Homo sapiens: one gene and its partner. The protein of the gene in region 2 interacts with the protein of the main gene of each other region in a biochemical or structural test. Each region holds a gene or a part of one and is shown on either strand. Other genes may lie near its edges.

Region 1 (5,294 bases), on a different chromosome or scaffold from region 2:
GTTTAGTATTCAGAAGTTTAACTATGATGTGTCTTGGCATGGATTTCTTTGGGTTTATCCTGTTTGAGTTTGCTCAGCTTCTTGAATTGATAGGTTTATGTCTTTTGCTAAATTTGAGAAGTTTTGACTGTTACTTCTTCAGGTACTTTTCAGCCCCATTCTATCCACTCTTTCCAGACCTTTGTTGACACTAATGTGAGATCTTTAATTATAGTCTTGTAGGTCCCTGAGGTTTTGTTCTTTTTTACCCACAGATTATTTTCTTTCTGTTGTACAGACTGAGTAATTTCTATTGTTTTATCTTGGAAGTTCTCTGATTATTTCCCTTGTCCCCTCTATTCTGATGTTGAACCTGTTTTTATTTCAGTTATATATTTTAGTTAAAAATTTCCATTTGCTTCTTCTTTATATCTTTTATTTCCTTGCAGAGACTTTGAGTCTCTTCCATTTGTTTAAGCATTTTTAGAATTGTGGTAAAACATACAAAACATAAAATTTACTGTTTTAACCATTTTTAAGTATACAGTTTAATGGCATTAAGGACATTCACATTGCTGTGCAATCATCACCAGCATCCATCTCCAGAACCACCTTCATTTTCCCAAACTGAAACTCTGTACTCATTAACCAATAACTCCCCATTTACCCCTCCCCACAGCCTCTGGCAATCACCATTTATTTTGTGTCTCCATCATCTGACAACTCTAGTCACCACATATATGTGGAATAAGAAACTCCTGTCCTTTTTTGTCTAGCTTATTTTACTTAGGTCTTTAAGGCTTATCTGCATTGTAGGCGTGTCAGAATTTCATTTCCTTTTAAAGCTGAATAATTTTCCATCATATGTATATATCACATTTTGTTTATCCATTCATCAATCCATGGACATTTGGGCCATTTCCACCTTTTGGCTTTTGTGAATAATGCTGCTGTGAACATTGGTATGCAAATATCTCTGAGCCTCTGCTTTTAATTATTTTTGATATATACTCAGAAGTGGAATTACTAGATCATATGGTCATTCAATGTTTAATTTTTTTATTAAATACTGTTTTTACTAATTAAATACTGTCATACTCTTTTTCACAGTGGCTGGACCATTGTACATTTCTTCCAGCAGTACACATGGATTATCATTTCTCAACATCCTCACCAATATTTGCTGTGTTTTAGTAATGGCCAAACTAATGAGTGTGAGGTGGCATCTTACTGTGGTTTTTATTTGCGTTTCCCTAATGATTACTGATGGGAATCTTTTTATGTGTTTGTGGGCCATTTGTATATCTTCTTTGGAGAAATGTCTATTCAAGTCTTTGCCCATTTTTAGAATTGAAGGGTGTTGTTGTTGTTGTTGTTGAATTGTAAGAGTTTTGTTTTTTTTGAGACGGAGTTTCGCACTTGTTGCCCAGGCTGCAGTGCAATGGTGCAATCTCGGCTCACCGTAACTTCCACCTCCCAGGTTCAAGCGATTCTCCTGCCTCAGCCTCCTGAGTAGCTGGGATTATAGGCATGCACCACCTGTAGAGATGGGGTTTCTCCATGTTGGTCAGGCTGGTCTCAAACTCCCGACCTCAGGTGATCCACCCACCTTGGCCTCCCAAAGTGCTGGGATAACAGGCGTGAGCCACCACGCCTGGCCCAAGTTGTAGGATTTTGTACCAGTACCCCACTATCTTGATTATTGTAGCTTTGTAGTAAGTTTTGATATCAGTTAGTATGAGAACTCCAGCTTTGTTCATTTTCAAGATTGTTTTGGAGATTTAGGGTCCCTTGAGATTCCATATGAATTTTAGGATGGATTTTTCTATTACTACTAAAAACACTGGTTCATTGGTTTATGTCAGTCATATCAAAATAAACACATCAGTTTCAGTAGTACTGATTACATTAAGCTTATTAGACTTCACTCATCCCATATAACAGTTCTCAGAGTCCTAACAGGAATCCTATATTTTCTTGTAATTGAAGTTAAATAGAGAAAGCAAGTCAGAAAGAAGAGGACAAAAAATCTAAAAGGGAGTCCAGTGTCACAGAAATTTGTTGAAGGATATGAAGTATAAACTTTTCTTTTGCCACAAAATTAATTTGAAACATATCCTAAGCTTTTTGGTAAGTCATTGGACTTCATATTTGAACTGGTGATAGGGTTGTATGTAACCAAACCTTGAGATCATACAGTGAGCTGTGTTTAATTATAACTCATTATTGTAATTAATCTTACATTGTAGAACTTGACGTCTCGTTTTTCTTTTTAAAAATTGGGCAAGTAGCTGTGCAGTGGCTCATGACTGTCATCCCAGCTACTTGGGAGACTGAGCAGGATGAATCCCTTGAGGCTAGGAGTTTGAGGCTGCAGTAAGCTGTGACCATGCCACTGTACTCAAACCTGGGCAGCAGAGCAAGTCCCCATCTTTAAAATTTTTTCCTTTAATTTAAAAAAAAGTAAAGTTTTTATGATTTTTTTAAATTATAATACATTTCTAAGAAAGACATTGCTAGGCTACTGCTATGTCTTTTTCCAGAATTGTTTCTAGTTTTATAAGCTTAGTCTTGTCAAAATAAACATTTTGGTATATGTTTTGGATAGACTTAGAACAACCTAACAGAATCATATCTGTTATTTTTTTGTCTTCCAGAATGTCTACACAAGGAAGTACAGGATTTGGCTTTTCTAGATGTCGTATCCAAACTTCGCAGTCATGAGAACAAAAGTGTTGCCCAGCAGGCCTCTCTCACAGAGCAGAGACTTACTGTGGAAAGCTGAGAACTGCCCGATACACGGCATCATCCCATCTCTAATTTCCCCTCTGTCCTCCATCCAGCGGCTTCTTCCGCTTCATTCTCTACCATACCACTTGTGCATGCATGTGATGTTCTAATACCAATTGAAGAACCGCTGTAGGTACCTCCCTAATAAGATTTCTAAACCTATAGTTAGTGTGATCATGACTTTGTCAAAGGCAAGTCTCCACCCATAACCGTTCTCTTGTATTCCTGTTGCTTGAGCTACATTAAGTAGAATGTGCATGTTGTAGTCCTATGATGATGTAAACTTGGTACTACATAATGACTTGCTCCACACATGCAGTAAACTACATAATGATGTACTGGTAAACTAGAAACAAAGAATGCAGCAGGATCTGTCTAGCTTATTAAAGATGAAACTGAATTGGAAAAATAGCTCCATTTTTTGGTGCTTGGGAAGCACAGTGACCAAAAAAGTTGTATGGCTGCTTATTCATTAGTCTTTCCTACTGATGTCAAATCCATGGTACCTAGAGTTAAATAAAATTCCAATGCTCTTACTCTTTAACTTCTGGTTTCTCCTTTTTCCTTTTTAGACTATTGAAACTGCCACAAACTTGGCAAGACTTTCTGAGGTTTCTGATTCCATATTTAATTGACTATTATCAATAGCCTGATATTGAAAAACATTTGTAGTTTTCAGTGTGAAACTAAGGGGTTGAAGAATCACTATTACAATCCCTATTACAGAGCATTTCGGGTTTTGCTTGTATTTTAGATTCTGATACATACGCTGTTTCACTCAGGAACTACTTCTACCAGTTAATCAGCATTATCCAGCACTTGTCTTTAAAATTCATTTGGCGCTTGTTTGTTTTCAACTGAGGAAATTGAGTATAGTTCATTGAAGAATGGAATTTTTTTTTTTTTTTTTTTTTTTGCTGTTTTTCATCATTCAGCTAGAAAGTGAGAAGTTTTATCTTCCATAGTCCTTTTAAATCTTATGTTAGAACTAGCAGGACGTAGGTGGAAAGATGAAGAAATAAGCTTGTCTAGACTAAAGAAAGGAAAGCAGGTTATAAAAGCCATAGTAGCCAGTCCAGTTCATTCTGCAGATGGCCCCATACCAATCGCTGTTAGAGTTTGCCACCTCCACTTTCCCACTGAGAACTGCAGCAATTTTAAAGGATATGAGAAAGCCAAGACTCAAGAGATGAGAAGACCCCCTTGGCGAAATATAGTGTACTCTTCACTGCCACTGCCACCACCAAATGGGTTTTTAGAGCTTTGAAACACAATCTTTGTAAATTAATCAAAACCTCCCTGTGACCCACCTGCCTTCTCCCCATACCCAAATTTGACCACTACTGGCCTAAAAGGCAAGATGGGCTTCGATATAGAAGGACTGCAAGACAGTAGAAAGGGCTGCCACGGAGGTGACAGTAGCTCCTTCCTCTCCAACATGTGATGCTACACATCTCTGTGGATAATCTAAGTTGGACTTTTGACTCTAAAACAGCTATAATCCAAGAAAGTTAAATTCTAATGGAGGTAAAGAATCTTGACTGATTGTTCCCTTTGATGTCCAAATAAGGGAACTATTGTGAGTACGTATGCTACACTTACTATAAGAATGATACTGTTTGTTGTCTTTCTCCTGGGCTGGATAGTGGACTATATTTTATTACAGGCTTTGAAAGACATCTGTAATGTTGCATATCTGTTCATATTAATAACTTAATAAATAGTATATGAAGCTATAATGGCATCATTTGGTTTGTTTGTATATTTTGTCTCTATTTCCAGCTCCTAGAATAAGGCTTGCTATTGATGTTCAACAAATATTTGTTGACTGAATGAATGAATCCTGCATCCATGAAGTTTCCAGACTGCCTGAACTAATTCCAGAAAGATAGACTGACTGACTGATAGAAAGTTTGAGATTTGATAGTTTGTCTGACTTTAGGGAAAAAATTTTAACAAAAGCATCCTAAAATCGTAAATGTGAGAGAAGTTACCATCTAGGCCAGCTGCCAGCCATCAATTTGCTAATATGCTAGGAACTCCCATCTCCAGCAAAATAAAGTGCAATTCAAAGTACTCATCATTGTACGGAAAGACCAGAAGGCTGTGCCCTTATCACAGGGGCTACCAAATTAGATGGTACACTGATGTGCCATTGCAGTGGATGGGAGAGTCTACAGACTGTACTCTCGCTTATCTCCTGCTACTAAATCTTAGTCCTAGAGGCCACTATTTATTAAGTTAGTTTGCTACCCACTAAGAGTACATTCTAAGGGAGACAACAGGAGGGAAGAACAGCACAACAAAGCTTTAACTGTCAATCTTGAGCCAGTACTAGAACATAGATGAAAAGGGCAGGAATACAAGCAAAGAAGATGCCTGAGTGCAATGCACTAGAATATACCCCTTTCCCCCCAACCCCATTAGCAACTTGGAGTCATGCCAGCCCACCCACCTAGACCATAACCTCATTGTGCTCAAAGCAAACACTAGCCCATAACCCAGTGTTTTCCATGATAAAAACA
Region 2 (4,186 bases):
TTCCCTTTGAAGCTTCATATTTTCTCCCATAGCAGGTGATCATGGAACTATCTCTGATTATAGTTATTATTATGGTTATTTCTTTGCTCAGCTTTTCAAGTAGAATTGAACATTTTTTTAATATGAAAACACTGAACTATTTTCAAAACCCATTATGAATTATATAATGTCTCTCCATTTCTTGCTATCTAAATGTACGTTATAAGAACAAGTGAACAATTGGGAACTGGGTACCCAAGTGAGTGAAATATTCTGTTCCTTAGTTTTCCTTAATGCGACTTTTAATTAGCTTTCCCATGCTTTAGATACTAAATTTATGAAGAATAAAAGTTAAAAGCCAAATGCTAATCTTGTATCACTGCTTGTCTTGTATACTACTTGTCCTAGGATTTCTATATTACAACTAGGAAGATATGAATTAAAACCACCAAAGAGACTATAACCATAAATAACTTATGACATATGTTCCATTATTAATTGAAAACTCATAGTTAATAAACTTTGGGAAGGAAACTTTCAGGCACATGGCATGGAATATGAAGGTGATGTTCTTTTTATAAATTTTAAAGGTAGCATATATTATACAAATTACTCAAGAGTTTACAAGCAGAAAAAAAGGAGAAAAAATAAAATTCACGCGCACCCTATATTAACATGTAATTCGTAGTGAAATGTGTGAAATATAAACACATGACTTTCACTTATTCATTTTCACTTTACGCTTTTTAATTGAAATTAAATTAGTCACTTAACATACATAATGCAGTGTTTGTTTTCCAGTCTAGTAGCTTTTCAGCATTCAGTTTTGTGGCTCATGGGAAATGTTACTTAGCATCAAGATGTGGTTTGATGAGTGAACAATGTCAGTATCAACTGTACTTAACAGAAGACAGAGGGGCTGGGGTTAATCTGCAGCTAACAACATATAAAAATAAAAACAAACACAGACCCACAATAACATCAACATGCATTATTAGGCAAAGATCCAAAATTAACCCAACCCACACAGATTTCTTCTAAGCTGAGATTACACATGGAAACAGATACTTTATCAAGATCCATAGCCATAGTAGTAAGGTTCATCAGGGCGGAATCCATATGCTGTGGCAGGGCGTCCAAGAATGCCAACTGGTTGGCCAAAGCCATCCATTCCAAGGCTAAAAAAGAAAAAAAAGAATGATAAGCTATGTTTTTCATCACACATCCACAATGCAGATTAAGAGGCCTACATTTTTATACCACCAAGATTCTCTTCCTAGCAGGGATAGTGATTTAGGTGGATATCATTAACTTTTTTTTTTAAGGTTAATAGAGCCATTAAAAGTGTATATAATAAAATACTTCTAACAATGTGTGTTAAAAGTATGGGAAACCTCTGTCAGTAGGTACTATTTGAAACAAAGTGGAAGAATCAAATCAGAAAAGTTTTATTTAATAAATTACTTATATATGGCTCTTAAGCAAAAATATGAAAAGATTTTACATGCTAGCAATGATCAGTAATATATTGCTAGGGAATGATAAAAATAAAACTGTAGTAAAGTGAGTTTTGCTGTTTATAATGTCTTTTCATATGAAGATACAGGACTAATTCCACTTTTAGTAAAAACATGTGTTTGAGTTATATCAGTGAACTCTCATGCAGGGCCAAATCATACCATAAGCCTATGATTAAAAGAACAAGATAAGGAATTTGACAAAATTTGAAAATTAGTCAGATTTGATCTGCAAATCCTTCCTCTGATTCCTCAATGCAAACAATTACAAAACATATCTATTTCTTTTGAGTGACAGCAAGACAATTACAAATTTTGGTTCAACTTATTCTATGGGAATAACAGAAACCCAAAGATAACCTTCAGAGTTGTAAAGATAGCTTGAAGTATGTTAAACTTCATGATTATTATTTTAAAAAAATTACTTGTTGGTCTATTAATACATTATTTAGAGGAAAATCTGTTCTCCAAAGTCCTTTTTAAAGGTCAGGGAATTATCCAACACTTAGGAAAATGATAAAGTATTTATTTTGCCAGGCAGAACATGGTGGCCTTAACATGCTCATGCATAGCTCATGCAGTGAATGCTAGTGAGCTTGACTTCCAATCAATGGACACCATTTGTAATGCAGAAATGTAAGCTTTGGAAAAATAAAACATATTTAAATGATTTAAGATTTAAGTTTGCACTACATGAGATGGAAAGATAATTTTCCCTCAATAGCAAAAACTGAATGTGATGAAAAAATATATTCACATAGGCACTAACTCCCTGTCACACTCAGAGTGAGATTAAGTTGACACACTTTAGAAGTAACTATTAAAATGTTAAGGTTTTAAATAAATGTGTGAATGCGTGTGTGTGTTTGTGTGCACGCGTGCTTGTGTGTATTAAGATGGAACTAAAGAGTAAATGTAAAGAGCCAAAATACATATAACACATACTGGTCCAGTGACTCTGCCCTTTAGGAGAATGGAAGTTCTGAAATACAAGTTTCAGGTTAGCATTTGTACTGAGCGATTCTGGACAAAATTTGTTGTTTTGGGGTCCTTCTATATAAAAACTCTGTCTATAGTTTCTCAAAGTTGGTTGAAATTTTTAAGTCTACATTTTATTTTGAAATGGTAAAAATATAGGCACTTTTTCTAACTTTGATCTCATGGGAAGAGAGACTAAATTTTGTGATGAGGAAATCAAGAGGTAGCTTAAAAGATGCTTCAGAAATTAGTGGAATCAGTGAACTAAGAGACACTGGTATCAGCTTAAAATTAGAGAAGTTATTGAAAACTGTTCTCTGCAAGCACTAAGGCTAACAAGTAATCATGTATCTAAAGAACTCTCAATTATATAACTGTTGATTACATAGCTTGGATTTCAACTTGTTCCTTCTTCATCTTTTGCTTATTACCTGTCTTCAACCAGTCCTTATCTTTTTTAGCAACTCCTCTGAGGCCAAATAGCAGTAGACTTAGGTTAAACTCAAGTTAATCTTATGCTTGTTTCTCAATCTAGGGGCTATGGCAAGATCTATTTCAGTAATATGAAAACAAGAGGCATATGTGGGACAGTGAGGAAACATGCAAAGGCACCTTCAGAGTATCTCACAGACGACTTGTTAGCAATATCACTGTAATTCTACCTAAAAGAAGATGGTCCTCAGAAGGGAGTTCACCAGTCATTGGCACAGAACAAGGAGCGTCTCAGCTACAACGCTGGTTGTAGCAACCTAGGCAATTGCGTGGTGATCTGGTAAGCTATAACACCATAAGGAATATCTGGCCTTTTTGCAGTTTGGTCCTCAATCAGGAAGGGAATTTAACATTCTCAGAGTCTGAGGCCATTCTACATTCAAGTTGCAAAATTCTCCCCCTTTTTTTTATTTCTACGACTAATAGGCAAACTATTGATCACTGTAATTTCCCATGTAATTTGCCAACAGGTTAAATAATAAACTTAGATATTACCTAATCCACCTGATGGTTATAACTTTCATTGTACATTAACAAATGGATTTTTCTTTTTAAAATATGTCATGCACATTGTTGATAAAAACCTGCAGTCCCAAGTCAGTGAAAGACTGGCCCTTGAGCACTGATGAGTCTGAGTTTCTGAACCTGTAAATCTCTGGTCTTGAACAGTATGGTCTTTAGGTTACTATGGTAAAGATCTATTTATGTAGTCAGCAGTTCACCCAGAGACATCTGTGTGTATTACAGTGTAGAGGATATCATTTAATTTTTCGAATTTCTATATACAAATATCGTTTTGGAAAAAAGGAATAAAATTTGAAACCAAACTCTAAAATGATCTTTTCTGGAATTCTCCATTATGTATCACAGATGAACTTGCTGTTTAAAGCAAAAAATATTTAAAACATTTATGATCAGTTTGGAGAGTACTTTGACATAGGTCCTAGGTCCTTTTGTATTATGAAAAATCAACTATATCTACATACATTTTTAATTAAATTCACTGTGAAACATAACAGTTTGTTTCTTTAAACTCTCATTTGCTTCTTTCTAATATAGTGGGGGAAATCAGGCTTTCTAGGATGCTAAAACCTGGAGACATTCTTTTGGAATATGTAGACACTTTACTTTTTTCCTTGGGAAAAGGATACAGCCTTGCTAATGCTGAGTTTAGTTCAAAACCCGGAGAGTTTTCCTTTAAACAGAAGCAGATAGATTCT

What was found.
Region 1: the proteins of KIFAP3 (region 2) and RAP1GDS1 form a complex in vitro, tested with the Homo sapiens proteins (one study listed by BioGRID).

The regions. Positions count from the first base shown.
Region 1 is NC_000004.12:98,439,354-98,444,647, forward strand, and holds the end of RAP1GDS1 (rap1 GTPase-GDP dissociation stimulator 1), read left to right. Parts: intron 1-2,636; coding exon 2,637-2,764; 3' UTR 2,765-4,505; downstream 4,506-5,294. UniProt on the Homo sapiens protein: Acts as a GEF (guanine nucleotide exchange factor) for the Rho family of small GTP-binding proteins (G proteins) that stimulates the dissociation of GDP to enable subsequent binding of GTP.
Region 2 is NC_000001.11:169,920,625-169,924,810, forward strand, and holds the end of KIFAP3 (kinesin-associated protein 3), read right to left. Parts: intron 2,479-4,186; coding exon of another isoform or gene 2,442-2,478; intron 1,158-2,441; coding exon 1,052-1,157; 3' UTR 705-1,051; downstream 1-704. UniProt on the Homo sapiens protein: Involved in tethering the chromosomes to the spindle pole and in chromosome movement. Binds to the tail domain of the KIF3A/KIF3B heterodimer to form a heterotrimeric KIF3 complex and may regulate the membrane binding of this complex.